Linked DNA regions of Homo sapiens: region 1 is linked to region 2. The links come from fine-mapping of genetic effects on gene expression. A gene starts in region 2. The other region holds a variant in brackets. All regions are shown on one strand. Distances are from middle to middle.

The links. PIP is the estimated chance that this variant, and not a neighbour inherited with it, causes the effect.
Region 1: its variant is fine-mapped to the expression of LINC02370 in tibial nerve (GTEx, PIP 0.99).

Annotation. Positions count from the first base shown.
Region 1 is chr12:131,363,047-131,378,605 of GRCh38, reverse strand. It overlaps LINC02370 (long intergenic non-protein coding RNA 2370), which reads right to left. Exons shown (of 5, transcript NR_103736.1): 3 at 11,591-12,650; 4 at 11,267-11,482; 5 at 11,051-11,159. Among named protein-coding and RNA genes, the nearest start is that of LINC02370, 23 kb to the right of the region's middle. The variant CACAGGACTGCTGCT/T (reference allele first, on the strand shown) is at 7,196.
Region 2 is chr12:131,339,044-131,354,602 of GRCh38, reverse strand. LINC02370 (long intergenic non-protein coding RNA 2370) reads right to left here and starts at 7,133. Exons shown (of 5, transcript NR_103736.1): 1 at 6,942-7,133; 2 at 5,059-5,275. RefSeq lists enhancers at 5,699-6,243, 7,436-8,073, 12,940-13,515, 13,516-14,089 and a silencer at 8,615-8,839.

The DNA of each region.
Region 1 (15,559 bases), 24 kb before region 2:
GCCCCTCCTCTATATGTGCTCCTGCTCGGGAATAGAATCCAGCTGTTGGCAAGGGCTTCCTGGGAAGGGATGGGCGGTAGGGATTGGAGCCTTTGTGGCCTCGCTATCTCTGTTGCAGTCACTCAACTTCACCGTGGTAGAGTGAGGACAGCCACGGGCGACACGCACACGGGCAGGTGTGGCATGGCTCCGGGGAGCCTTCATTACGGCAGCCAGCAGAGCCAGCCGGCAGGACAGCTTGCGGAGCCGATCCCTTCCCACCTCCACCGCGATCACCACGGAGATCACAAGCTTCTACGTCTCCACCCTGGAGCCTGTGGTCATGTCTCTGGTGGACACCTGAATGACCCTGGGACGTCTGACATTCATCATGATGGCATGACTGAGCGCTTGCTGTGTACTTAGTCCCTGCTGGGGTTGTCTCGTTTAATTCTCTGATACAGAGTCTGCAGCTTTGTCCACCACCCTGAACTGCCTCTCAAATTTACCCACAACGAACCCTACCTATATCCCCTCTACCACGCTCCTGCAGGCTCAGTGACGCTGAGTTTCTCGTGTCGGTAATGCAAGAGTTAGCGCTGGTTCTCCCCCTCTCACTCCCACACTGACACATGTCATCAGATCTCCTTCCAAATATTTTCCACATCTGCCCCCCGTTCCCATCTCTCCTGCTGTGGCAGTGAAACAGCAAAAGAATGGACATCACTCACTCCATCTTTGTTTAAGGGGCCCTTACCCCTTCCCGCACATAGGCCGGGATAATTTTACAGCACTGAGATGAAATGCAAAGATGGCAATCACTTAGTTTTAAAAACTAAGTCTGAGATTAAAGGAGAAGCATGTAAATCACTGACTGTGTTTTGTGAAAGATTTACAGGAGATTGTGACCTGACCAAGGACAAAAGAAGTGGCCAAACTATATTTTCGCTCAACAATTCTACCTCTATGTATTTACTAGAAAACTCCTCACCAGTAATAAAACTGTACTTAACACTTACCAAGAACTTATTGTGAGGTGAGCACTGCTCCAACATGCCTGAGTATGTTACCTTACTCTTCACACAAGCTCTCTTATGTAAGCACTCATGTAAGGACTGACAGTACAAATTTTCCACACTTAGCAGGTGAAAGTGAAGAGGAGTTGAGTAATGGGTCCATGGTTGCTATGGTTTGGATGTAGCTCTCTGGTCCCCACCAAAACTCAGGTTGACATGGGATCCCCAGTGTGGTGTTGAGAGGTGGGAGGTGTGTGGATCATGGGGATGGATCCCTCACAAATAGCTTGGTGCTGTTCTCTTGGTAGTGAGTGAGTGCTCGCTCTCCCAGGAATGGACTTGTTTCTGAGAGAGAGGATGCTTTAAAAGCCTGGATTCCTTCATCTCCCACTCTGGCTTCATCGGTCTCCCTCTCTTTCTTCCTTGGTCTCCCTCTCTGGCTTCCCCCCCAACACTGTGTGATCTGTTTGCACACACCTGATGCCCTTTCTCTTTTCTGCCATGAGTTGAAGTATTCTAGGACCCTCACCAAATGCAGCTGCCCAAACTTGGACTTTTCAGCCATCAGAATCGTGAGCCAAATAAACCTCTTTTCTTTATAAACTACGCAGCCTCAGGTATTCTCTCAGAGCAACACACAATGGACTAAGACAGTGCTCACATGGGTAGTAAGTCCTTGAGCCTGGATTTGTGCCTCTAACCCATGCATCCAACTCCCGAGTCTCCTCTCTCAACCATGGCAGGACAGAGCCACTTGTATAACTACACAAATGTGTATTTTTAGGATTATTCATGGCAAAATTATAGGAGCACAAAGTGAAACAAATTTGTAAGAGCGAAAATTCTACCAATAGAGAACGTAGTAAACAAATCACAGCATAATTATACCATGAAATATTGAGTAGCAGTTACTGAAGAAGTGACCATCCTGTGTGCCCTGGAAGACTATATGTGCACATGTATGTATGTGTGTGTACACCTATCACACACACACATTCACATGACTGTGTCTGATGGCTCTGAAAAACTAGCGCTGACCTGTTACGGGGCTCATCCCTGAGGCCTGGATGAAACGAGGCCTTTCATCTCTTTCAGTATTCCTCAATCTTCTGCAACTTTTACACAACTTGTTTCTTTGAAGAGGAGAAAAAAACCCCTAAAAATAGAATAGAAAGAAAAGTGAGACAGATGATCAATGCGGTCTGGCCGAGCTCATGCCCATAGGACTTTCATTGGGATGCTGATTTCAAGATGGAGAAAACAGCTGACAATGGCACTCAGCAGTGGCTGTGGATTGAGCTTCCCCAGGAAGGTCACCAATTTCAGTCAGGTGTGTCTCCGCTTCCTGCTGCCACTCGTCATTCTTAGTGACCGGGTGCCTGCCCACTCCCTGAGGGGGTTGGCAGGATGCAAAACACTTAGCAGGTCCCTCAAGGGCAGGCCGGTGGCACACAACAAAGGCTGGCCCCCTGACTTGGGCACTGCGAGTGCACGGCCTGGCTCTCCTCCCCCAGCTGTGATGCCATCACAGCCCCCGAAGCTGTTGGGGAGGGAGTCCCTGTGCGTGCCCATGCCCTAGAATGAGGGGGTTCCACACCATCTAAGGTGGGGGTCTCCTAAAGCAGCTTCCCAAGTTCTCTGCATGGTAAGAACCGGGGATGCAGACGTGTGCTTGAAATACAGGTTCCTGGGCCCCCAGAGCTCCCGAACTCGCATCTCCGTGGACGGGGCTCTAGGTCTGGGTGTGTAAGGATCATCCCAGTGCATCAGGCAGGTTGGGGAGTGCTGCTGTCAAGTGATTGCTCTCAAAGGCAGTGCCCCCCAGGGCTCCTTGAAACACAGACCCCAGATCCTGGGCCTCTATCTAGAGTATGACTCTGCAGAGATGGTGCCAGGGATCTGCATTTCAACAGTGTCAAGGTGACCCTGCATGAGGCAGAGGCCTGCAGATGTGCTTTGGGAAACGCCACTCCAGAGCAAAAGAATACTCCACTGTGTGGGGCAAGGGGTCGCCTGCTGTCAAGGCCTTGTTCCAGCTGGAAGACCTCAGAGAGGAAGACGACAGCAGCACAGGACGGGCCTGTGACCTGACCGCTGCCCAGAGACATTCTCATGCCAACTGTGGGCTGAGAAATGTGGTCTCACTGTGCCCAGAAGGAAGATGGGCCAAGCCTGCTGAACGGCTGGCAATCTCAGCCACATCTTCCCACCCCCATCTCTAGCCAGCAGCTTGTGTTCCTGGAGGCACAACCCTTAGCAGCTGTTTAGTGTCCTTTAAGAGATATCTTAAGATTAGGCGCATATATTTCCTACACACGCCACACATACGCACACACACATGCGCACACGCACCTATACACACATGCACACGCATCCACACGCACACAGAGGCAGCTCCTTTCTGGAAGGCACTGGGCCTGTGTTTCCCCATCTTCCCTCCATCCCTCTCTTTCCTGTTCTTTCCTTCCTCCCTGTCTCTTCTCTCCCTCTCTCCCTCCCTCCCTCCCTTCCTTCTATTTCTCTTTCTCCCTCTTTCTTTCTGTCTCATTCTCCTTTTTTCTTCACTTAACAATATATGGGTCCACAATTGTACATAGGGAATATGGACCAACCTCATTCTTCTTAACATTGCCACAGTATTCTGTGATATGGATGCACCATAGTTTATTTACCAAGTTCCTTATACACAGCATTTAGATTATTCCTCATCTTGTCAAACAAAGATACTATTAAGATCCAATTAAAATAGTTTGTCTTTGTGAATCTGAGTGAGTGTAACGCTAGGATAAATTTCTAGAAGTAGAATTGTTGGCTAACAGAGTAGTGCACTCGCTATTTTAATAGACATTGCCAAATTGCCTTTGAAAGAGGTTGTTTATAAGCAGTATTTAATGGGCTACCACCACCACAACAGATACATATACCCTCCCAAACCATCCTTAGCTTGAAAGGATCTTGTCCAGATGACATTCTCCTCAAATGTCTCTATGCGTTCAAGGCAAGCCTATTCAAAATCCTGGAAGATTGTTTTTGCAAAAATAAATGTGTTGATTCTAACGTGTGTGTAAACACGTAAGAAAAGAGGACATCCAAGATGAGCAGAACAGCAGCCACCGAGGTGCAGGACTGTGCCCTCAGACGTTACACTGGTGATGAAGCAACAATGTCAGAAAGACAACCGAAGTACTGGTCACCCAGAGGGCCTAGGAATCATCACACGTGTGCACCAAGACTTCATCTATGACAAAGGTGACCCTGCAGGGTGGCAGGAGTCTTTCCCATAATGCCACGCCAATTGGATATCCATACGCAAATAAATGGATCTTCCAATGTTCCTTATCCTCCCCCAAATCACTTCCAGCTAGACCATAGTCCAACTGTGAAACAACTTTTAGAAGATAACAGGGGAATAACTCTTGGCCTCGTGGCAGAGATGGACGTTTAATAGGAAACAAATTTAAGGGTTAAAATGTCTTGATTGCACTTAATTAAAATTAGGAATTAAAATAAAAAACATGTTTTATATTATCACAGTTGGGATTAAGTTAAAAAAATGTTTTACACTTTGGGAGGCTGAGGTGGGAGGATCGCTTGAGCCCAGGAGTTGGAGACCACCCGGGGCAACATAGACACACCCTGTCTCTACGAAAACGAAAATTTAAAAGTTAGCCAGATGTGGTGATGTGTGCCTGTAGTCTCAACTACTCCGGAGGCTGAGGTGGGAGGATGGCTTGAGCTCAGGAGATCAAGGCTGCAGTGAGCTATGATCTTGCCGCTGCACCCCAGTCTGAGTGACAGTGAAACCCTGTCTCAAAAAAAATTTGAAAGTAGAGATATAAACCACCTAGGAGGAGAAACTATTTAGGCACACGTAACTGGCAAAGGACTCATATCCAGAATATATTTGTAAAGTCTGTAAGTCAGTAAGAAATAGACAACCCAATTGAATAGTAAACAGGTACTGTATAAAAGTTGTCAGTAGTATTATAACTTTGTTTTGGGTTTCCACATTTTATTTTCTACATAGTTAAAGAGACAGATACATTTAAAAATTATTTGTTTCTGTTTTTGGACACATGACATATAAAGATATAATTCTGTGACATCAACAACTGAAGGAAGTGGGAATGGAGATGTGAAGGAGTGGAAGTTTTTGTGTTATTGACATTTAACCAGGATAAATTCATGTCAGAGTGTAGCAACTTTATTATATCAGCCACAAAGAGAATAGCTGCAGAGTAAACACAAAAGGAAATGAGAGAGGAATTTAAACATTTCACTACAGAAAATCGACTAAACACAAAAGAAGACAATGCAGTAAAGGAGGGACCAGAAAAATGATAAAGGACGTAGAAAACACATTCCAGAAGGACAGAGGTGAGCCCACCCCACCCCCATTATCAGTCACTTAAGAAGGGAGGAATTTCTAACACATGCCACAGTGTGATGCACCTGGGGGAGGTGATGCAGGTGCAGTGGGATCCCACTCACAGGATGGAGGGAGGGATTGATGGGTGGATGGAGGGAGGGATTGATGGGTGGATGGAGGGATGGAAGGATGGAAGGATGGATAAAGGGATGGATGGATGGATTGATGGAGGGATGGATGAACGGATGGAGGGATGGATGGAAGGATGGACAAAGGGATGGATGGATGGAGGGAGGGATGGGTGGATGGAGGGATGGATGGAAGGATGGATGGAGGGATGGATGGATTGATGGAGGGATGGACAGATGGATGGAGGGATGGACAGATGGATGGATGGATTGATGGAGGGATGGATTGATGGAGGGATGGATTGATGGAGGGATTGATGGATGGATGGATCGATGGAGGGATGGATTGATGGAGGGATGGATTGATGGAGGGATGGATGGAGGGAGGAATGGATTGATGGATGGAGGGATGGATGGATGGAGGGCTGGATGGTGGTGATGGTTGCACAGTAAAAGCAATGTACTTAGTATCATCAAACTGTACACTTAAAAATGGTTAAGATAGTCAATTTTATGTTATGTGTATTTTACCACGATAAAAAAAATTGGCCCCCAAGCCCCACAATATATTAAAAACAGCAAACATTTAAACTTACCTTCCAGGAACCTCAAAGATGCACAGACATGCGGGCCACTTGCTTTTGCCCTTGGACCCACTCGCTGACCTTGCTTTGCTCTTTGCTTCCCAAGGGTGCTGTACTCCCTGGCCTCCTTGTCCCCCATTTCTGGGCAGTTCTTAAGCAGGCAGTTACCGAGGCAACAGGCAAGATTACCTGCAGGCGGCTAAGAGCAAGCCAAATGGGGCCAACAGGTTAGCACAGGGGCCCCGGTCAGTAACGGACGCTCCAGAAAGTGGCTGGGACAGACATCTGTGGTCACCCGCAGTGGGCAACTTCCTTGCTGAAGGAGGAGTGACTGTTGGAGGAAAAGTCCCAAAGGCCGAGCCAAGAACCATGTCCTTATGTTGAACTTTGCTCACTGTAATAGTGAAAAACACATGCCTGGGCAGAGATTTAAAATGCTAATGAGACAGGCAATGTATGTGCCAGCATGTACAGTGACGGCCTCTGTAGGCCCAGGAACCCACCCACAACATGCTTAGTTCCTGCTCCTTCAGGAATAATCATGTGAGACTCCCATCAAAGGAACTTCCCAGTGCCAGTCTCACTGTCTTATTCCAGAGCAGCCCGCTCTGACCCAGCTAGTGGTGCACACTTTCGCTTTGCAATAAACTTCTTTGCCCACTCTTACTTTGGACTTGCTCCCAAATTATTTCGTGCACAGATGTCAAGAACCTGAACAGGCCCACCCACAGCATCCCTGGCCAATGGGAGGCCTCAGCAGGACATGGCAGGCGGGAGATGTGGGGAGGCCACAGCCTGGTGCTTTTCTGTCTCGCTCCCTCCGGTGTGTCTGGCTTGTCTGGGAGCGTCTGCTGTTACTGAAGTCCCAGCTTTGCCTCCGTCTTTCTCCCTCTAACCCAAGACAAAGAGCAGTGTGCTGGATTCCTGCTGTTGCTAAATTCTGGACTGCTCCACGCCCCTGGGTTTGGCTTCTGTGTTCTTCCACCCATTCTCTGCATTACATTTCCTCCCTGTGAAATGTCTTGAGTCAATTCTGTCTCTCGACTAGACCACGCCTGCAACACTAACTGTTCCGTTCGGACAGAAGGTTCCTGAGAACACACTGGCGCTGCTGCGCTC[CACAGGACTGCTGCT/T]CACAGGTAAGATGCAGAGGAGAACGGTCGCCACAGCCGTCTCAACGTCCAACAGAATTTTCACTGTGCAGGCGGTGATTTATTTTCTTTCTCCACCAACTTGGTTGGCCTTCATGCCACGGGGATGAGCAGCCTAGGACCCTGGTGAGGCCACGGCTCCAGTAGACCCTGACAGTGAAGCTGTGGTCCCTGGTTAGCGGTCACTGCCTGACACTTAGGGCCTCCCTTCATTCCTCCAGGGAGCCGAGGTGCATGTTCGTGCCATAGAGAGGCCCACGCTTTTCATGCAACACAGCCGGTAAATGCAGACTCACTCCCTGGCCTGGGGCTCTGATGGAGACACAGGAACCTGGTCCCTGGCTGCAGGAAGCAACACCCATGGGTCCAGGGAGGGGTGTTGTGTCCGTCACTGTATTTCAAGGGCTTACGAAGGTGTTGCCTTTGGTCATTCTGCTATTTGTGACTTCATCTTATGTACTAACGTTAGGATGCTACTTCTGAAAAGGATGTGACTCACTTACTCTATTAAAAAAAAGAGTAAAGTTTTTTCTTTAAGGAGCCTGCTGCCTGAGGGAACCCTGTACAGTTATGGGGTCAGGAGTGGAGCCTCAGGCCAAGTGATTAAGAACAGGAAGAGATTCTGGGCAGAAATGATCGATACATTTATAAAGGAGATTCTATTGGTTCCACGTCTGAAGGATGAAAATACAGAAGGTCAATTCACACAGAGCATACACTCTGTGCCTGCCCTGTTCAGGTTAAATCCACACCAAAGCTCATTCTGCAAAAAACGAAATGGAGACACAGAGTGAATAATCAGCTCCCTGCACCCCACGCTCTGTAAACCAGGACACTGGCCCTCTCGCTCCCGAGTCCATGCCGCGAGCACTGACTGACCCTGCCTGACCCTGCCATAGAAGCAGGGCTCTGGGCTGCTGATTTCCAGTAGGAAATTCAACAGCTCATCAAACCCATGGTTGCCATGGCCTGGCCGGAAGAGACTCTTCTCCCCTGAGGAGTAAGAGTGAAGGGTTATCAGATTCTAAGAGTCTTGGGAGGTTGCTTTGTTCAGGAAAGTCACCTCCTTCGTGGGGGTCCCTCCTCCCACATCTATTCCTGGAAACCCAGGTTGGCTAGGGACACGACGGGGCATCGCTTGAGGTAAGAAGACCCCCCAACACTGTTTTTTTGGGGTGGGCCACACCCTCCTGGGGTCACATTGGACACCGACGGTCTGCTTCCCCTCTGAAGGGCCCTGGTTCTCACTGCTTACCACAAAGGAGACCCCTGAGCCAAGGGAGGCTCCCCGCTGGCTCTTCCCTGCCTCATCCCAAGAAGCCCTGCCCATTGCCCCTGCCCTGCTCTGCCTGACATGCCGGAGGTGGAGGATTGTTCCATGAGCAGCTCCACATTGATTAGGTTTCCATGGCCAACAACCCAGGTCCTTGTCACGGATGCCGGCATTTTGTTGTCCTGCTGGTTTGATGCTGGCATCCACTGGACAAATCAATGGTCAAAGGGAGGCAGGGAGTAGAGAGAGGGCACTGTGCATTCTGCAAGTGACTCCAGAGCCCCAAAGACAGCCGGTTCCATTCAAACAAACAACGCACGTGCTGACGTCCCCGTGAGTTGTGTAGGCAGCGTTGCAAAAGTTCCCCAAACCCTTATGTATGTGCACATTTGGAGCCTGCGAATGGATCTGCTCCAACATTTGGCCAAGATGGGAGCATGGGGCTGAACATCCACTTCCCCTCCCAGCCAAGTTTTCAGCTTCCACATAGGTTCCCGGGCAGAGGGTCCAATTCTGCTGAAATCAGGCCTAGGAGAACTGCCTGGGGCATGTTGTTAGAACAGAAATCCTGCAGGTGCTGCCCCGACTCATTCTGTCCAGGCCCTCCAAGGTTAGTGCCCCGGAAAGAAGAGCTCAGCTCCAGGCCTGGCCCCGCTGGAGAGAGGCCAGGACACTCCCAGGACAGTGCTCGGAGGGCAGGAGCTGGGGATCCGGTGAGGTGGATTCCAGGCTGAAGGAAGGAGTCCTGAAGGGGATCAGGTGAGGAGAGGAGGAGACCATGAATGGAGAGCAAGTGTCTGCGGAGGACCTGGGGTCACCGGATGGCACTCACGGTGCTGGGACTCTGGAGCCTGGCAGGGCTGCCTCTGGGGTCTGGGGGAGCCTGACCCTTCCCACGATCTGGGCCATCCATGGGGAGGACAAGAACAGTGGCCTGCTGCTCACCTGGAGATCCTGGATTGAGGAGGGGGCTGTCAGCTCATGGACACCTCCCTGCTTCTCACGCTGGCTCCACTGAGCCCCCAGATCCTTCCTGCCCTGCCGTGGGACCTGCAGGCATCTTTCCTGGCCAGAAGACCCTCAGCAGTGAGTCCACTCCCCAGAGCAAATGTCCAGGTCCACCCTGTGTGGTGGCCGCTGGCCTCCCTGCCCCCTGAGCAGCCAGGTGGGTGTTCCGAGTCCAGAGCCTCCTCCATGCCCCTTCCTCTGTTCCCATCTGTCACCACCTGGGCCAGGGCCTTAGTGAGGGACCCTGCAGGCAGGCATGCCCTCAGGACACGCACCAGGAGTGAGGGTGGGTCCAGCTGCCATCAGTTGCGCCCCAGGGCTCCTGGCTGTGGTGAGGGTCTGGTCTAGCCACTACCAGCTCCCAGAGTGCCTGCTCTGACCCTGGCTGAGTTCAGGAAGGGGCCTCTTCCAGGTCCTCCCCTAGAAGGGGTGGGCACCTTCCCATTTCAACAGTCCTGAGAGGGCACCTTTTCCTTCTTTGCACACTTGCTGGTGGCAGCCCAGGCCCTGTGTGCCCGACAGGCCATGCTGTCACTCCAGGGCCTGTCCCCTCTGTGTCCAGTCAGTGGCTGTGTCTTGCTGTCCATGCTGCACACAGGACCCCAGGCTTTTGCTGCTCTGTGACTCTCCAGCCTCACCCCCAGCCCCAACCTCAAAGGCCTCATGCTTGGGGACCTTGAGGACTCAGCCTCCAGTGCTCTCTGGATCCTCTGCCTGACCGGGAGTCACCTCTGCCACAGGGACGCATCCCCCAGACCAGTCTCTCCCTGGTGGTCTGGCCTCCTCCCCCAGAAAGCAGGCCAGACCCATGGTTTGAGATAGGACACTTTCCAAAATTAAATTCCTCTGCCAGAGGCGTCTCGCTCAGACAGTGAGCTCTCATAATTGCTCGTTTTGGGATCCGATCAGATATTTCCTTGACAAGAGCCTGCGGATATAATGTTAATAGAAAAAAATTGTATTTGGCATTTTTGTGCTCTTCCCTGCCAAAGGCTCTGAGCCTCGGCGCTTATTGGTTTTCTGCGGCAGATTCATTTTGCATTTCCTCCTTATTACTGGGCTTAGTGGGACCAGAGCTGTTTGAGGAGGGAGAGATTATCATTTTCCACCTCCGCGCTGTACAGTTCATCAACAGCGTGCAAATGACAGAGGCTGGGTGGGGAGTGGCGGACTCGGAAGCAGAGGGCAGGCCGGAGACCAAGTGAGGGAGACCAGTGGCCATGAGAGCCAGCATGGACAGGAGCTGTGGGTCACATCTCTATGGTCCCAGCCTATTACCCCAAAGTCCAGAGTTGCCAAAACTTCCATTTGTTCAAGAGCATCCTGGCCCCGCATTCCCAGATGAGGCCCCTGATGTCTGCAGGTGGGCCTGGGTGGGACCCGCTGCCCTGCAGGCCCCATCCGGCTCCCCCGACCCCACTCCACCCGCCCTAAGATGACTGGGGCCCTCTGTCCATCCAGGCTCCCTTCCCTCCCTATTTTGAGTTGGGCTCCACTAATGGAGTCTCCCCTGGGGCACAGAGCAGGCTGGAGAGACAGGCTGAGGTCGCGGCATTTATTCCTCGTGCCCTCCCTGCATGGGGCTGTGCTGCTGGCAAGAGCTGGGACCCCCAGTCTCCAGGCCCAGCTTCTGTGGAGTGCCCCGCATGGCCTCACGGGGACCCTCATCTCCAGACCCAGCTTCTGTGGAGTGCCCCGCATGGCCTCACGGGGACCCCCAGTCTCCAGACCCAGCTTCTGTAGAGTGCCCCGCATGGCCTCACGGGGACCCCCAGTCTCCAGGCCCAGCTTCTGTGGAGTGCCCCGCATGGCCTCACGGGGACCCCCAGTCTCCAGACCCAGCTTCTGTGGAGTGCCCCGCATGGCCTCACGGGGACCCCCAGTCTCCAGGCCCAGCTTCTGTGGAGTGCCCCGCATGGCCTCACGGGGACCCCCAGTCTCCAGGCCCAGCTTCTGTGGAGTGCCCCGCATGGCCTCACGGGGACCCCCAGTCTCCAGGCCCAGCTTCTGTAGAGTGCCCCGCATGGCCTCACGGGGACCCCCAGTCTCCAGACCCAGCTTCTGTAGAGTGCCCCATATGGCCTCACGGGGACCCCCAGTCTCCAGACCCAGCTTCTGTAGAGTGCCCCGCATGGCCTCACGGGGACCCCCAGTCTCCAGGCCCAGCTTCTGTAGAGTGCCCCATATGGCCTCACGGGGACCCCCAGTCTCCAGACCCAGCTTCTGTGGAGTGCCCCGCATGGCCTCCCTGGGACCCAGCAGCATGGCTCCTGCCCTGCTCCTCAGGCCACAGGTGGCGACAACATCCACTGTGGCACCCCCCCTCGAGTTCCACGCCATCCTTGCTCACCCTGCCTGCGCCTCTGCAAGGCACCCTTCTGTGAACGGTTGAGTGAACTCTGGTTCCTGCCAGGGCCCCGGCTGATGGAGCCTTGAATGAAAACAAAGAGACCACAATCCTCTGAACCCTCCTCAGCCCGATGAGAAAGCAGCCTCCCACTCAATTCACTCAAACAAACAGGCTCTGTGCCTGGGCTGACCCTGCTTTTGAACCCAGCCCAAGGTCAGACAGTTCCCCGTTCCCCATTCATCATGGCTGGGAGGTGGCATGACAGCTGTGGCCTGTCCTGGGGCTGGCAGGGTTCAGCAGGGGCTGAAGGGTCACAAATGGTGAGGACTGGGGTACTGGGAGTAGGGACCCTGGGAGAGGCTGGTCCTGGGAACCATGTCAAGGAGCCTGGCGGTCATCAGGGAGCACGTGAGGGAGAAGAGGAGGTGCTTTCTCCAGAGGAGGGAAGCTTGGTGCAGGCAGCTGCTCCATTCCCTTGGAGCTTGGGCTGGGCTGTGACCCTCGGGGTGGGGAAGAAGCAGCCACCTGGGGAGACTCCAGCTCAGGGCAGGGGCATCCCCCCAGCCAGCCACTGCCTGTGGGCCTCGTTCATAGGGGACGTCACGGTGCAGCCAGCACATGCACTGGGCAGCTCTTCTCTGGGGGCCAGGAGAGCCCAGGTTGGATGTCATGGTCCCAGACACCTGCTCAGCCGAGAGGGACACCTGCCATCCAGAAGGAGGCGGTGGGGTTCTCTTCCTGGACACGGAACCTACACGTGACTTCGCTGGTTGTAAAAGTGACACAAGCCTCCTGTGAAAGAAAAGCAAGAAAGTAAGCAGCGCGAAGGCATTTCCATGAAGTGGGAGGCGTGTGCAGGTCAGCGTGCCCCTCCACGGCCCACGCTTCAGGCATTCTGTTCATGTTTTTACAGCTTTAACATTTTCTGCATAGTGATGTCATACATGTATTTTGAAACAAAATGGGTCCTAATATACAAAAGGTCCTTTTTTAAAATTACTCAACATTGTGGCGTGCACATTTTCGCAGTGACTGTGGACCTACTGTGTGGGTCTCCACCCCTGGCCCTGGTCTGTTGTCACTGCTCCTCCAGCATAAACCAAAAAACAATAAGTCCCTGATCGGGGAGTGGGGGAGAGGTGGAGGCAGGGACAGCTCCCACAGGGATGCGAGGGTAGGGGAAGGGCACAGAGGGAGTGACTCAGGGCTGGTGATCTTAGTGGGAGCAGCTAAGCCCTACATGCTTCGGGAGCTTGGCTCTAGTCACAGGTCCTGTGAGCCTGTCCTTGTAGGCATTTCTTCGTGGAGCAAACATCTCCAAATGTGAAAGCCTTTCGGCACATTTCACCAAACTGCCCCCAGAAGCTTCGAACAGGGGACACTTACCAGCCCCCAGAGGGTCCTGAGAATCCATCCCCCAGACCCTCATTGGCATCAGCTATTGCAGTGAGTTTCAGTCTTTTCTCACCCGATGAACTTGAAGTATTTTCGTTTCGTTTGCATGTCTTGGATAATTAGTGATGTTGCTTCCATTGCGGCTCCATTGTTTTTGTGTGTCTTCTTTCTTGAACTTTTTATTCATGCCAATCCTTTGTATACAGATATCTTTTTTCATATTGATTTGAATATGCTCTTTACATATTAAGGATACAAACTTGTTGTTTGTCATGTTGTCTTCAAATGCTTTCCTCCAGTTCACTTGCCTTACAAAGTCATGATGACACACTCTGCATTCAGAGACTTTAAAATCTGTGCAATTCCATAACCTATCCTTTGCTTATTGTCTATGGACATTTAAGTTCTTTCTTATCTTCAAGATTTTAGATTATTTTTCTACATTTTCCTCAAAGTCAAACAAAATTTACAACAAATTAAAACAATAACTTAAAATTATTTTAAGTGGCAGAAAAATGAATACATTCTAGTAGAAATTTCAAAGAATTTGACAAAGCCCACGTGTTTGAAGACCTGCCATTTGCCGGACACTGTGATCAAAGCTGGGAATATAATGAAAAATTCTGCTTCCTTAGAGCTCATAGCTAGGAGGCATCCACAAATTATCACATGGATCAGTATAAAACTAGCCCTGGGAACAGAAATTCCTGCGGAGAACAGTGGAGAATCTCCCCCTGAGAATTCTCAAATTTTCACAGAGATTAATGTAAATGACCACTGAGATAAATGTTGTGAAGATGAAGTGTGTGAGCAGCGGTGGCCTGTGCAGGAGGGCTGCCCACGGCACTCCCTGTTTAAGCGTCCCCGAGGGAGTGATATTGAGCTGTGATTTTACACGAGTGGAGGTTCACTCATTTAAATGAGTGATTTTAAATAAGTGGAAGCACTGAGATCATGAGGAGGGAGAGGTTATGAGGAGGAGGGGAGGAGAGTTCACATGCCAGCTCAAGGACACCCCCAGCTCACGGACACCTCCCAGCTTGAGGACACCTCCCAGCTCACAGACACCTCCCAGCTCGAGGACACCTCCCAGCTCAAGGACACCCCCCAGCTCACGGACACCTCCCAGCTCACAGACACCTCCCAGCTTGAGGACACCTCCCAGCTCGAGGACACCTCCCAGCGCGAGGACACCTCCCAGCTCACGGACACCTCCCAGCTTGAGGACACCTCCCAGCTTGAGGACACCTCCCAGCTCACGGACACCTCCCAGCTTGAGGACACCTCCCAGCTCACTCCGCTCTGCCCCCTCCTGCTCTGCTACCTCCTAGTCCCATCGTCTGGAGGTAGCTACAGTCGGAATATGGTGTGTATCCTTCTAAAACATCTCATGTGTACCTTTAAACATAAATTTATAATGTTAATAATGGAAAAATAGAGTGTTTGTGTATATTTATGTTTGTTTTCTGCTTATGAAAAATTTCAAAAACATACACAAAGGTAGAGGATACATAAAACTCTCACATACCCGTCGCCCGACATCAACAACCACAAACATGTTACCTCCCCCAGAGTCACAGTCCCACAGGTAACAAGTGACTCTAAATGGGACAGGGGAGAGGTGGATGCAGGGATGGCTCCCACAGGCGTGGGCGGGTGGAGGAAGTCTGCAGGGCCAGTGCCGCACTTCAGGGCTGGGATCTTAGCAGGGTCTCAGCGGTGCAGCTAAGACCACTGCATCTGCATGGGCAGGGAGGGTGGTTACTCACCCAGTGGGGCAGCAGCTGGCTCTGCATGAGGGGCTGCCAGACAAGAACTGCAGCCCAGCGAGCGGGGGTAGAGGAGCAGGTGCTCTGAGCACAGCCTCTCGCCTCTGGTTGAGCCAAAGGTCTCCAGAGGACACAGAGTCCCTTTACTACTGGATATTAGGGTCAGCCTCCAGGCACAGGACTGGATAGAGAGCACTGAGAGAGATGTACGTGAAGTGAAAGAGAGGCTTGCAGCACGGTTGAGTGCTTTAAAGCAAATTGCACACCCCATGTCCTCACATTCCTAAATCCTTCAATACGCATCCGAATAAGGAATCTCTTCTTGCATGACTACCGTTCTACACTCACGCTTTGCAAAACAAACAACTCCTTCATTTAATCAAACATTGCAGTGGGCTCAGGGTTTGTGTCCCCACAAAATGCATATGACGAAACCTAATCACCAACATAATGGATTAGGAGGGGAGGCCTTCGGGAGGTGATTAGGTCCTGAGGATGGAGCCCTCATGAATGGATTAGTGCCCTTATAAACGGGCT
Region 2 (15,559 bases):
AGCCACATTGTTACATGGTCCATTCTGTTTCATCGACGGCCCTTTTGACAACTGAGGATTATCGTATTCATTTTCTCACATACTTGTATGTCTCTTCACTGGACCGGAACATAAGTTCCAGGAGAGCAGAGCCATGGCTCTCCTGGGGCTGTGTCCCCAGCGCCTGGGACAGAGCCTGGTACAGGGGGGTGCTTAATAACCAAATGTTGAATGAAGTCACCAGATCTCTCCCTTCAGTGGCTAGTGTGAGTTCAGACAAAGGAAGAAGACTTACATGAGGCTTACAGGGTTGAGGTCAGAAATAATTGAGATTCTGAACTTGCACGAATTCCAGCACTTCAGGAGCGTGAGAGCAGATCTGCACATATGCAGGGATGAACAGGGTGACCCCAAGGACTAAGCTCTCAGACTCCTCAGCAGAGGCAGGATGGGGACAGGGGTCGTGGTATGGGGGACTGCACATCGTGGTTGGAGGGCTGTCAGCTGATCACTCGTCCCACCTGGAACCCCCAGAACTTCTCTCTGCATTTCCCTTCCAGCTGCTCCCTCCCTGGGTGCACCCTTATTGCTTATGCAGCAGCATTTACAAGTGAGTCACCCCGAGTGGTTGCAGCAGGTGGCAGGGGCAGGTGAGTCAGCCCGAGTGGTTGCTGCAGGTGGCAGGGGCAAGTCAGTGACCCTGAGTTGCTGCTGCAAGGTGACGATGCTGCTGCAGGTGTAGATGATGGTCTTCAGTGATTGCTACAGAGGAGAGGGCACTTCACTATCTAGCTTTCAGAACATGAGCCTCAAGTTTCTTTTGCCTTGTTTCCTCTTCAGGGAAAACAGAGACAGAGATGGAGAAGGAGACTCCTGAGTTCATCAAGAAACACCTTGATCCAGCCTTGCTTGGAACGTTGGGGTAGATGAACAACAGGTATGTGGCCTTTTCTGTGTGGGCCACTGGGAACTGGGTTTCTGCCATTTGCAGAAAGAGGTTCCTGACTGGCATGCAGGCCCCAACCCAGGCTGAGCTTGAAGTGCAATGGCACACGTGGCCTCCCTTCCTGTCTGCCCACCTTCTTGGGGCCTATTGCTGTGGAGCTCCAGGGAGGCCCCTTCCCTGCTGGATGGAGCAGGGAGAAAGAATATCTTCATGGCTAATACTCCTTCATCATGTTGCTTTGAGGACACTCTAGCTGGCACTGAGAACCTGAGCTGTGGAGTCCCAATTCTATTCATTAGTAGGTGTGTGACCCAGGGCAAGCTTAACTTCTCTAAATCTAAATCTCTTCATCTCTAAAGTGGGAAAATAATGGTCTCCAGGCCTGCAGGTTGTTGTGAGGCTTAGGCAACGCTGTATATGCAAAGCATTTAGCACAATGTTCTGCACATATTAGATACTCAACACATGGTGTCTGTGTCAGTAAGCAAGTTTCTCTCTAAATAACTGCACACATTCATACAATACATGATGACTCAAATCCAATAGAAGCTTATGTCTTGCCTTTATGGCAGTCCAAGTGGTTATGAGACAGGTAACTCTCTTCCATGGTGTATTTCTGAGACTCAAACCCCTTCCATGATGTGAATCACCATCTCATTGATGTCTGTGTCCTTCCAGGAGAATGGACAAGACATCATAAAGGCGGTAATCATGCTTCCTTCGGCCAGAAACGGTCCCCATCCCATCTATTGATGAGAACGCAGCCATGTGACCACATCTCCTTGCCAGGCAGGCTGGGCAATGTGGCTTCACCACGTACCAAGGAAGGAGGAGCAGCAACTGGTGAGCATACAGCGCAGCACCCACTTGTGGTGCCAGACCATCAGGTAAGGCCAGACACAGCCGGGCAGCCTGGCAGCAAGGACAACGAAACCTGGAGCTGGTTTATCGGTGACGAGTGGAATCTGTTTCCTGAAGAGCCTGAGAAGGCAAAGAGCCTCCTCTGCGGGAAGACGGGAGTGAGGGGCTGACTGCCGGCATTCCAGGACAAGAAATTCTGCCCCTCCGGGGTGCATCCTCCTTCTTCCATTCTCATGGAAGTGGTCAGCGACGTCAGGAAGCTCACTCCGTGTTTTCCAAGGAAAGAACACTGGTCCTGGAATCGGCCTGCCTCTGGTTCCAGCAGGCCCGGCCAGGCCATCCCGGCACCTCCGCTGGCTTCTCCTCCAACCCATCAGGCTTGGTCAGTCCTTCTCTTCCAGCGACCTCAGAGTGGCAGAGCCATTGGTGCAGCTATAAATGACTGATGGCCCGGTTGTGTTGGAGGAATTGTAAACACCATTCATAATTCATCGGGCGGGCATGTGCTTTGCATTTAGAATGGCTGGTACCCGCAGCCTGCTGCGGAGCTGCAGGGAGACCTGGTGGACGACGTCCCCTGCACCCTCCAGGGCCAGTGGCTCAGCCAGGATTCAGGGAGGCTCTAGTGGCTGGATTAACTCAGGGCTTCAAGGCTGGCTTTTCACAGAGCTCCATGTTTGAGGTATTAGCTTATCACCTGTTACTTAATTTTTTCCTTTCCATCAACTACCTTATTTTACATAATTCAATTTTAAAAAGGAAAATTTGCATCATTTTCCAAAATGAAAATCAGTATCTACTGCCCTTAATATCCAGTCCCAGCGAGGAGGAGGAAGTGCATCTCTGATTGGCTTGATTTGGTTGTGTGCCCATCCCTTATCCAATCACTGTGATGAGAGTGTGTGTAACTCTGATTGGCTTGATCTGGTCATGTGGTTACATGTTATCCAATCACTGTGATGAGGATGTTTGGGACTATGATTGGCTTGATTTGGTCATGTGCCCACCTCTTATCCAATCACCATGATGAGGCTGGGCTGTGTATGACTCTGATTGGCCAGTAATAGGTCACATGCTCACTGGTGATGTGACGGGCTGGGTCAAAGTGCAGGTCACTTTCTTCAGGGAAATCCTGATGTTGTGACAGGAGGAAGAGGAAGAGGAGGGACATGTCAAATAATATCGCCCACGGTTCTGTTCTCTAAATGTTCCTCTTTCTCCCACACTGCTGAGCAGAGCTGTTGAGGTCTGCAAGGAACTGCTGGTGTAAAGTGTGGGATTGAGCCCCTGTGCTCCCCAGGTGGGCCTTGGTGAGCCCCTGAGTGTGAACACATGCCTGGGCTGAGCCCCTGAGAGTGAGGCCCTGTGTGTGAACACCTGCTTGGGGTGAGCCCCTGAGAGTGAGCCCCTGTGAACACATGCCTGGGCTGAGTCCCTGAGAGTGAGCCCCTGTGTGTGAACACATTCCCGGGGTGATCCCCTGAGAGTGAGCCCCTGAATGTGAACACCTTCCTGGGGTGAGCCTCTGAGAGTGAGCCCCTGTGAACACTTTCCTGGGTGAGCCCCTGAGAGTGAACCTCTGTGTGTGAACACCTGCCCGGGGTGAGCCCCTGAGAGTGAGCTCCTGTGTATGACACCTTCCTGGGGTGAGCCCCTGAGAGTGAGCCCCTGAGTGTGAACACCTGCCTGGGATGGGCACCTGTCCAGCATGGGCATCTGAATGTGGGCATGTGAACGTATGCACCTGAGTATGAACAGCATTACCATACCATGCTCTCTGAGGAATTCTCACTGTGAAGTTCCTGGTAATAAAAGTCAATCAAAACTCCATGTTCTATCGACCCAGCTCCCTCCACATTCCACATCTTCTTTCTGGTCTTAAAACAGGAATTAAAAGAAATTAAAGAATGTGTAAGCAGAAACTCAGTTGTATGTAAGAAAACCCAGGCCGGGCGCGGTGGCTCACGCTTGTAATCCCAGCACTTTGGGAGGCCGAGGCGGGTGGATCACGAGGTCAGGAAATCGAGACCACGGTGAAACCCCGTCTCTACTAAAAAAAATAAAAAAAAAAAAAAATTAGCCGGGCGTGGTGGCGGGCGCCTGTAGTCCCAGCTACTCGGAGAGGCTGAGGCAGGAGAATGGAGTGAACCCGGGAGGCGGAGCTTGCAGTGAGCCGAGACTGCGCCACTGCACTCCAGCCTGGGTGACAGAGCGAGACTCCGTCTCAAAAAAAAAAAAAAAAAAAAAAAAAAAAAAAAAAAAAAGAAAACCCAATTCCCCTTGAGAAAGAGAAAGAGCTGGAGTCCTTTAAAAATTAACTGCCTGTTTTTCTGTGGCTAGTGAGCCTTATCTCTCCTCCCTTCCCAGGCATTGTGAAGACCCTGTTTCCCTAGCTGTGCAGCTGCAAGGTCACCAGACAGATAAACTCAAGTCGCAAAACATGTTTTTCCTTGAAAAGTAAGAAATGATGTAATACATGTCTCAGTTGAATAACTGTCTTTGTTTCTCGCTTCTGTAATATGCTTCCCCCTGCACAGATCTCCCCCCCACAACACCCCACCCCATGAAATGCTTAAAAGGTAACTTAACTCTTTGTTCAGGGCTCAGTCATTGGAATGTTAGTCCTACTGGGCCGGTGTACCTAAATAATAAATATCCTCCTCAACCCCATCGGTCTCTGATTCCTTATCAATCCTGCTACAGTCTTAGGCAGAGTCATCAGTTGGATATAAAGTTTCTCGGTCTGTTTTTAGTGAACGTACATGGAAAACACGTACAGAACTGGAATCGTGGAATAACTCACATGTGGAATTGAATCCTAAGCACAAGTTTGGTACCAAGGTCCACACATGAGGTGGGAATCATGCAGCATGAAGTCCCCTGGGGAGTCCCACACGGACCTGCATGGTAGCCACTGCCACCTGCCCCACCAGCCCAGCACGGCCGGCTTCACCCTGATGCTTCTGCAGTTGAGCAGAAGATGATGGTGGGTATGAACTTGGAAGCTAAACGGTCTGGATTTGCATCGCTGCACTTCTATAAGCCCATCTGTAAAACAGGTTTATGTGGATTCAGTAGTTGAATATAGGAGAAGCCGTAAGAGGGATTCTCGGCACTTCATAAATTCTCGGACGATGTTGGAAATGACGGCAGCGAAGAGCACGATGATCACTGTTACAGACTACAGCTTCCCAGCTGGCAAGGTGCCCACACCCCAAGGGGCAGGAAGAAACAGAGACAGGTAGGGACAGTGTGCTCCTGCTCAGGCTCACCTTGCTGCTGCGACGCTGGTGGCCACAGTTGCTTGCAGGACCTAAGGCCACCCACAGCGTGGTGTCCAGCCTGGCTGACCTTACCCTTTTCCGAGGGACCTGAAGTAGTTGAGGGTGGTCCTGGGACATGCTTGTATATTTTAGAGGTGCAGAGTGTAGAATTTAGAAGTAAAAGGCCATCGTGATTGCAATGTACTTCGAATTAATTCCAAAAAATCTAGAGAAGAAGCAAATGCAGGAAGTTATCGGTAATTGTGACATCTGGCTGATGGTAAATGGGTGTTCTCCATACCCTTCTCCCTCCATTTCTGCATGTTTAAAATTGTCCACAATAAAAAGATGAAAACATGAATGAAAGTATCTTTTGCTAAAACAACAATATAGTGGAGATGAGGTATTATTGCATGAATACATCTACCTGCACAGATTTGAAGCAACCTCTGATTAGCCCCAAGCAGGCCCCACAGTAAATAGAGCAGGCATAATATCCTCCATTTAACAAGAGCCTCCCTGAGCCCGGGGGTCAGGTGCATCTTTGGTGAAGGTCTTTTTATGAAGCACTTGCCTGCAGCGCCTTTTTGTGAATGTCTAATCTGATGTCAGGTGGTCCCTCCAATGTCAGCCTCTGGTAGAAAAGTGCTACTCCCAGAGAAAAGCGTATTCAAAACTGCAAAATCATATCCTTTTCTGCCTCCTGCAGGGCTCTTGGCTCTTGAAAAACTGCTTAATATTTCCTAAAACCCAGGGGCTATTTTCCACTCTCCTCTCCTCTCTGCATTCCATTCAGCAATCCCGAGGGGATGTAGATGAGGATGCTGCCTGTTGTTTCCTTATTCAGGAAATTCTAAGGCATTTTCTCTACATGGAGGATTTTGAAGAGTGAATGAGAAAAGATAAACATCTTCAGAAAGAATCTCTGGGTGCTGGCAAGCAAGGAATGAGTTTTGCATTCGGGGAGGCCATTTGCCTTCAGTGTGGGGAGTCGGCAGTGTCAGAACTTGGCAGTGAACCTGAGGACGTGGACAGGAGCAGATGGGATGTTTGACTTCACCTCCCTTTTTCTCCCCGATGCATTTCAGTGCAGGTCTGCTGTGCTGCACCAGCTGCGTGGCTGAGGAGGAGACGAGGAGGAGGTTCTTGGGCACAGGAGGAACGGGGCTGGGGTGAAAGCAGCCAGCCAAGTGCGGGGGGTGCGCTCAGCGGGGGAAGCCAAAGTGCGTGGAAAAGAAGTGCTCTCCAGGACCAGCCCTGCCCACGGCCTCCTGGCCCTCAGGGGGACTCACAGACCTGACTCAACAGGCGCACACTCACACACAGGCACACATGCATGTACACAAGACACGTGTGCATATGAATGCACCCATGCACATGTGCATATGTACAGACGTGCATGGCACAGACACAGAAACATGAATCTGCACATGCACACACATGCATGCACACAGAGAGACACACGCATGCACACACATGCGTGCACAGAGAGACACACACAAGCACACGTATGCACACATGCGTATATACGTATGCATGTATACCACAAACACGCACATGCACAGATACACAAACACATTCACACACACACATGCACACATATGCATGCACACACAGAGACACACACAAGCACACATGTGCACACATGCATATATACGCATGCATGTATACCACAACCATGCACATGCACAGATACACAAACATTCACACAGACACACACATGCACACACACATGCACAGAGACAGAAGTACATGCACACACACACACATGCACAGAGGCATGCACACATGGAAGAAGCAGATACAAATGCACATATAGACACGTGTGCACACACATGCAAACACAGACTCAAAGTGTGGGAGACACCACCACCACTGCGCTGTCTGCTTACCTGTGTTTAGGGACTTTCGAGTTTTTCCACCTCTGCCACATTCTGCAAACCCCGAGAAGTGCAGCCCTTTTGGGTCATGATGGTGTCTGGTTCCCCTGCAGGAGAACATCTGGGCAGCTGTGGCGTTCGCCTTCCAGAGAGACTCCTGTCTCCTCCTACTGGGGAGGACTCACCGTGGACACCTGCAGATTGCTAAGTCATATCTCCAAGACGTTCTGGAGCCTGCTTTTCCACAACTCGAATAACTGTCGAATTTCCCACAATTCGAATAACAATAGAACGTGTCCCCATTCATTTCAGAAAGTGGAGGGCTCAGTGGAACAGCCCAGGACCTCATGTGAGGAGGAGATGGGGGCTGCTGAGGCCAGCATCAGAGCCTGGACAGGCACAATAGAATGTCCTAAAGAATTTCTGGAGACATGGCGAATTGTACTGCTGTCTAGATTTGCTCCTCCCCTGTGGCCCCAGCCCTGCTCATGCCGTTGGGTTAGGCCAGTCAGTGAGTCAATGGAACCAGTTGATTGGTTAGACGGTCCAGGTATTGGCTGCCGATGTGAGCGTGTGAGGATGGTAAAGGGCTGGCCCCCAGGTTAGGCTGGGCACACCTGATTTGAATAGATATTACACAAAATGTCCTCCAAACAGACTGCTCCTACACGCACTGCCACCAATGATATGAGGGGGACTGTCCCATCTCCCCCAGGCCCTTTTCCCTTCCCTAAAGACGGCAGAACAGGTTCTGTCTTTGCAATGATGAACCCAGACTCAGGCACCTCCAGTGGCTGAGCTCCCCAGAGAAGGCAGGGCCAGCCTCGTTCTGCACCTCCAGGCCATCCCACCATTGCAGGAGGCAGGGCAGGCATTTAGAGGAAGGGGAGGGGACACAGGGAGGACAGGAGCCGGGCCTTTCCCCCAGGGCTTCCTCCGTCCTGCTCCTGCAACAGCTTCTGGGCTCCGCTGGACCTCACCTGACCCTGCTCCCTGCACGGGGCAGCTCAGGGACCTTGACATCTGGGAAGAGAGGCTGCAGGGGAGGGGCTGGCGGGCGGCTGGGGGTCCCCGTAGTCCGGCTCTTTTCCCTCCTCACACACTGCTGTCTGCTCCCCGCTTGCCTGGCCCTGAGGCGAAGGGCCCAGGGGTCGCTGGTGAGGACGGGCTGCAGCTGGGCTGTCCTGGTGGAGGGAAGGAGATTATAAAAGGCCCTCAGAGAGCTACACAAGGTGGCCTTGTTTGGGGAACAGCCTCCCTCAAGCTCAGGGTTCCCTCCCATGTGAGCAGGAAGGGGTGGCCCAGGACCTGTGGTCAGGAGGCCTGCACTGTGTGGCTGGGGTGGGGGTCACTGCGGGTCTATTTCTAGCTCCGGCCTCTGCCCCACAGCCGGAGGCATTGGGTGAAGCCATTTGCAGCCTGAGGCATCCAGCGCCCTGGCCCTCCCTGCAGCTGTGACCTCACCAAAAACAGAGGCCACACTTCCCAGGGCGGGAGGGGCTGGAGGGCCCAGCTGTGAGGGTGAATGTGGCTGAGACCTTAGCTCCCTGGGGACCCAGGGCAGAATGAGCTTCCTCTACAACATACTGTGGCTCCCCATTGATGTGCAGAAGAGTCCATGCCCCTCCTCAGCTGGGGTTCACCAGTGTCACTACCACCCTTAGTCCTACTCCTCTACCAGCACCCCCTGCCACCTTGCCCTTCTTCTCTGGGCTGTGGCCTCATCCACCTCCATCTGTGTCCTGGTGGAGACCAGCACCCTCCTGGGGCAGGGCAGGAGGGCTTCCCTCTGTACCTCAGTGCCCAGAGTAGGACCCGGCAGGGCCCTCACCCTGCAAAGACGGGTACAGTGAGTGCAGAGGGTGAGGACGATGACACCCATCCTCGGGCACGCTGTAAGCAGCCATGCCTTCGAGCCTGAAAAGTGCTGGCCACAGTTCCCAGGTGGTCAGGATGCAGTGGAGCTGATGGCCCTGGGGAGTCAGCTCAGCCCAGCCCAGCCAGCAACAGGCTCTGCCCCGAGGCGCGAGTTCAAATCCCCTCCAGGCTCCAGCTGGGGAGGGCAGCCCACTCAGCCTCCCTGGACCTCAGGGTCCTCGTCTGTGAAATGGGAGTGAAAGTCACGGCGGGCGAGCCCGGGAGGGCTGCTGTGAGGATGAATGAGGGACCAGCTCCTGGCACGATGCACACCCCGTCCAGCCAGCACCGTCACAGGGGGTCAGCAACAAGGATGATTCCTCTTCCTCCCACCAAGGCGCAGAGGGCCTCTGAGTCACAAAGGAAAGGAACAGAGAAGACAGGCTGTGCTCCCGGTGACAAAGAGTCAGCTCTAAAGCCCAAATCCGCATTTACAGATGAGAAAACAACCACCACGGGCTGCAGGTGCTGATCCTCAAGCCTGTGATGGGCCGAGAAGCCCAGGGACTCTGCAGGGAAACGCCGAGCCCATGGCCCTGGCCTTGGCATTGAACCACGCACTTTTGCCCAGGTGGGTTAACACCCAGGGAGGCAGAGGGTTAGGACAGAGGGTCCCGGCACTCACTCCCGGGGCCTCGGGAGGTGACGGGGGCATCACCCCACTCTACTCCCTGTGTCCCTCCTGTGCCTGGGCTGAGAGGTGGGGACGACCGTGGGGCTCAGACCCCAGCATGGTGGCCAGGAGCTGAGTGACCAGCAGCAGGGCCAGCAGCAGTGCCAGATCAGATGGCAGGACTGATCTCATGTGTCAACAGCAGCACCCCAAAGACTCCAGAGACATTTTTGGGGATGAGGCCCCCACTGGGGAGCAGGGTCCTGACGTCACACAGGAGGCAAATTCAGCACCACGTCACTGTCCTTGGGTGGTCACAGGCGGCTGCACTGGGTGTGAGAGTGTCCACAACCCCTGAGGAACCTGCAGAACTGTCAGCTCGGGGGTCCCAAGATCAGCCAGATGAGTCTTGATACACCTGTGAACCGTTGGAGGACTTGCATCTCCTATTTCGGAAGGAAACATCCCAGACTAAAAAGGCTCCTACCACTGATCCTGAAGGAAAACCCTTTTCTCCTTAAAAAGATAAGTGAAGGCCTACGTAATCTTTATCTGTAACACCTCTCCTTCCCCCTTTAATGGAATCCTTTTACTATTTCATCATATTACTAAGCAGCGTATTAACCATACTCTTCAGGATAGGACTACATACTGTAGCTCCTACCGGGACGAAAATCCTAATCACATTAACCTTCTTTCTATCTTCCTTCCTTCTGACAGCAATTTATGCCTACCTTTAACTCAGCCTGGATAAAATGATCTTGTCTTCCAGAGCACCCTTTTACCTTCCTATTTACTCTGCCTGTCTATCCCTCCTACTTCCTTGGATACCTCATACAATCACCCCTCCCCTTCCTCTAGCTCCTAATTACCTCTACAAGACTCTCAACTTAACCCACTCAATGTTAAACCAGTCCAGTCCTTCCTGGGCAAATGACTGTTGGCTTTGTATCTCTCTATCAACCTCTGCTTACATTGCCACTCCCATTCCCACAAAAAATTGGGTCTTTACCAGCTTAACCTACCACCCTCATTATGAAGGAAAAGACCCTTTCCGACTTCTAAATATGCAACCATTAGCCGGCTTCCCCATCTCTGATAGGACCAAGAGTACCCTAACAGGACCCACAATCCAACTTTTATGTTCTTACATTTCCAACCTCACCTATTACACAAGCAATGAAAAGCCCATACACTGCCCTGTAACTACGAATACCATCTTAACTTTCTAAGCCCCTTTATGCATCCAGTGCAACCTGTTATCAGGCCTGCCCCTGGGGCACCTGCCACCCCATCAGTGTAATTACACCCTACATCTTCAAGCCCCAACTGATCATAGTAACTTCTGAGTCACCCAAACAGCTCCATTCAGACAGCTTGTCCACTTCTCAGGTCCCCCCAAAATCACCTCTTCCCTGCTTAACAAACAGTTCAGGTTTTGTGATGGCAAACATACTCCCTGCATGACTGTTCACCCCTGGAACCCCTGCAGCAGTGCCCCTACCACTAGTGAATGCCTTCTCATCCCCTCTTTCAGTCACTCTCTCGAATGGTTCCTAGTGGATACAAAACGGTTTTTCTCCAATGGGAAAATAGAATGCAGGCAGCCACTCAGTTTGCTCCCAACACCCCTTTCCAGCTGCTCACCGGAGCTACCTTGGCAAGTACTCTAGGAGTATGGGAAAATGAAAACAACAAACTCACACCTTTTTAACATACACAACCAGTTCTGTCTACCCAGCCAAGGTATATTCTTCTTACGTGGAACGTCGACCTATATCTGCCTCCCCACCACCTGGACAGGCACCTGCACCTTAGTCTTTCTAAGTCCCAACATTAACACTGCCCCAGGAAATCAGACCCTATCAGTACCCCTCAAAGTTCAAGTCTGTCAGCGCAGAGCCATACAACTAATACCCCTACTTACAGGGTTAGGAATGGCTACTGCTAAAGGAACCAGAATAGCCAGTTTATCTACTTCATTATCCGACTACCACACACTCTCAAAGGATTTCTCAGACAGTTTGCAAGAAATAACGACATCTATCCTTACTCTACAATCCCAAATAGACTCTTTGGCAGCAGTGACTCTCCAAAACTGCTGAGACCTAGACCTCCTCACTGCTGAGAAAGGAGGACTCTGCACCTTCTTAGGGGAAGAGTGTTGTTTTTACATTAACCAGTCAGGGATAGTACGAGATGCCACCCGGTGTTTACCGGAAAAGGCTTCTGAAATCAGACAATGCCTTTCAAACTCTTATACCACCCTCTGGAGTTGGGTGACATGGCTTCTCCCCTTTCTAGGTCCTGTGACAGCCATCTTGCTATTACTTGCCTTCAGGCCCTGTATTTTTAACCTCCTTGTCAAATTTGTTCCCTCTAGAATTGAGGCCATCAAGCTACAGATGGTCTTACAAATGAAACCCCAAATGAGCTCAACTAAGAACTTCTATTGAGGACACCTGGACCGACCGGCTGGCCTAAAGAGTTCCCCTCTGGAGGACACTACAACTGCAGGGCCCCTTCTTTGCCCCTATCCAGCAGGAAGTAGCTAGAGCTGTCATCGCCCAATTCCCAGCAGCAGTTGGGGTGTCCTGTTTAGAGGGGGGATTGAGAGGTGAAGCCAGCTGGGCTTCTGGGTCGGGTGGGGACTTGGAGAACTTTTCTGTCTAGCTAAAGTATTGTAAACACACCAATCAGAACTCTGTGTTTAGCTAAAGGTTTGTAAATGCACCAATCCGCACTCTGTAAAAACGGACCAGTCAGCACTCTGTAAAATGGATCAATCAGCACTCTGTAAAATGGACCAATCAGCAGGACGTGGGTGGGACCAAATAAGGGAATAAAAGCTGGCCACCCGAGCCTGCAGTGGCAACCCGCTTGGGTCCCCTTCCACGCTGTGGAAGCTTTGTTCTTTCACTCTTCACAATAAATCTTGCTGCTGTTCACTCTTTGGGTCTGTACTACCTTTATGAGCTGTAATACTCACTGAGAAGGTCTGTGGCTTCACTCCTGAAGTCAAGCAAGACCACAAACCCACTGGAAGGAAGAAACTCCGGACACATCTGAACATCTAAAGGAACAAACTCTGGACACACCATCTTTAAGAACTGTAACACTCACCGTGAGGATCCGTGGCTTCATTCTTGAAGTCAGCGAGACCAAGAACCTACTGGAAGGAACCAATTCCGGACACACAGCCAAGTGCCCACCCCGGAACCCATCACCCAGTCCATGGGAATGGAATGTTCTCCTCTCACAGGTCTGGGTCACAGGAGCACACCTGACCTGGGGGTGGAGTCAGCCCCACCCAGACCAGACCATGTGGACAGAGTGAGGGAGCAGGGGACTCCCAGATAAGCCAGGGGTGTGGCCTGCAGCAGAGACATCCCCTCAGCTGTCCCCTCCAGGACTCCCAGGCTGCTGTCACCCAGGGCTCATAAAAGCCTCTGGCAGACGGGAGGCCCCGCCCAGCACCCATGATGCCCACTGAGCTTCTCCTGGCAGCCGGCCAGGTTCCACAGGGAGGGTAGTGCCAGGAAACCCAGTGCACAGAGGGGCTTACAGATGCCCATGGGAAGACAGCTGGGTGTGCCTTGCTCCCACAGGATGTGGATGTGTCCCCTGTGTCCCAGGCTGTGGGCCCATTTGTGTCACTCATCACCCTGGCCTCATTTTCTGAGTGACTGTGCTTCTCCCTAGGAGCCCCGAGAAGAGACAGCCAGCGGGTGCTGCTAATTAATGAGGCTCAGCTGGAATCAGCTGTTTCAAACTTAAAAGGCTGTTAATGGGATTTCTAATTCCAGGGGTGGAAAGAGTTAAATTGTATTGCCAAAGACTCTTGCAATCCAAGATGTTTTCTGATTCTGGTTTTGTTCTGGTAATTAATTGGATAGAAGTTGTCCAACTTTGTGGAGACACCAGAGCTATTGCTGGTTTCACTGAGTCTCTGGAAGATTAAGTTACTTTGTCTCTCCCGGGAACTCCCAGAACCGGCCACATTGGTGCCATTTCAAAGACAAAGGGCTGAGCAGCTTTCACAGCGTGTGTCCATTGTTTTCTAACTCCAGAACCGTGGAAAAGCAGCAGGCTGTGTCTGCTCAGAGCAGGGCCCTGGGCTCGCCCGGCCCAGACCCCAGGACCCCAGGACCCAGGAGCCCCGCTGAGGTGCTGGCTGGGGCCTCGGGCAGGTCCAAGCCTTGGTTTTCTCATCTGGAGAAAGGGGCTGAGGACAGCACCTGCTGTCTAGGGTCTCTGTCGGCTGTAGGAGAGAGTGCAGCAGGCATTTGGCCCCAGGCCTGGCACATCCTGAGCCTCACAAATGTCCAAGAAATGACTCCGTGGGTGAATCACCACTCCTCTGTTACACAGCTTGCGATGTCTTCCCACTGTCCTGAAAGTCCCAAACCTTTAACATGCCGTGGAAAAGTCCCCAGAAGGCAGTCTAAGGACATGTTTCGGGGACTGAAAGTGGAAGAAGTTTTTAAAATAGGGAGAGAATTTGTGTTTGGGCTTTCTAAAGAGTGTGGTGCTCAGAGGAGATTCGAACTCCATTGGGCTCCCATACCTTCCTTGGGGAGGTAGAATCGTCTTTGGTTTCAGTAACACAGGGGGCCCCACAGCCTTGGCTGACTCAGCCCTGGCAGCTTGGGTCTGTCCAGTCCCGCAGGACCGGCCCCACCCCTCACATCTGCTGTCCTTCATCCTCCTGAGACCCTGGGTCTGAGCTAGGGTGGGCTCCCGCCCACCACAAGCTCCCCCACAATCAGCCGCCCCCCAACTTCACCCACAGCCCCCTTAACTGCTGCTCCTGTCTTGCGGGATCTGCCACCTGTGCTTGGAGGTGCCCCCACCACCTCCACGCTGGTGGGCTTTAAACCATTTCCACGAACTCTCCACCCCTTCACTCTTATCTCCTCACTTGTTCACATCAAGTATTTTCATTTAAAATGTAAAGACATGGTTGCAGAAATGTAATTCCCCATGTATTATGAACATTGATATTTTAGAAACTGCCTCATCCTTCCCAGTGTCTCTTTCCATACTGCAGCATGGGCATGTAGGATTAGATAAGTATACTTGCTATCTGTATACACATTTATTCTTTTTCCCTTTTCCAGTTCTAAGGCTCAGGTAAGTGCCACTAGTTCTGCTAACTGGGTGCTGGTCCCTGGGGGAAGAGGCTTACTTTCAAGTACTGTTACATCACTAACTATGGCATAACCTGCCCGTTGTATGCCATTCTCCACAAATGAGCTTCCATCCTATACAGGTTAAGGTCAGGATTAGCTAAAGGGACTTCTAGGAGATCCTCTTGGGTGGCATAAATCTGGACTATAATTTGTTGGCAGTCATGCTTGATTGGTTCCCCATCCTATGGGAGAAGAGTGGCAGGGTTGAGGGCCACACACATGTGTATTTGAAGCACTGGTCCCTCAAGGAGTAGCACCTGGTATCTAAGCAGGTGGTTATCTGATAGCCATAAACTTCCTTTGGCACCTAGTATGCCATTTACATCATGAGTAGTCCAGATAGTGAGATCCCTTCCTTGTATTATTTTGATAGCCTCTGATACTAAGATAGCCACCTTTGCAACCACCCATAAACAGTGAGGCCAGCCTTTTGCTACTACATCAGTTTCCTTACTTAGATATGCCACTGGTTGTGGGGTTGTCCCATAAGTCTGAGGAAGGACTCCAAGAGCTATTCCCACTCTCTCTCTGTGAAGTATAAAGAGAAGTTTTGTCCTATGGGAAGACTTTAGGCTGGAGCTTATACTAGGGCCTGCTTTAAGGTTTTGAAGGCTGTTTCTGCCTCTAGTTCCCATTCTACTAGATGAGTATTTGCCCTATGGGTCTCCTTGATTATAGAGTGGTCTGGCCATCTCACTGTATCCTGGGATCCACAGTTGGCAAAAGCTGGTGATTCCAAGGAAGCCCCACAACTGTTTTAATGTCTTAGGGTGAGGATAAGCCAGTATAGGCTGTATTCATTCCTTGCTGAGGGCCCTGGGTCCTCTGGCTAAGATTAGGCCTAAATATTTGACTTGTTGTAGGCAGAGCTGGGCCTTTGATTTAGACGCCTTGTAACCTTGATTAGC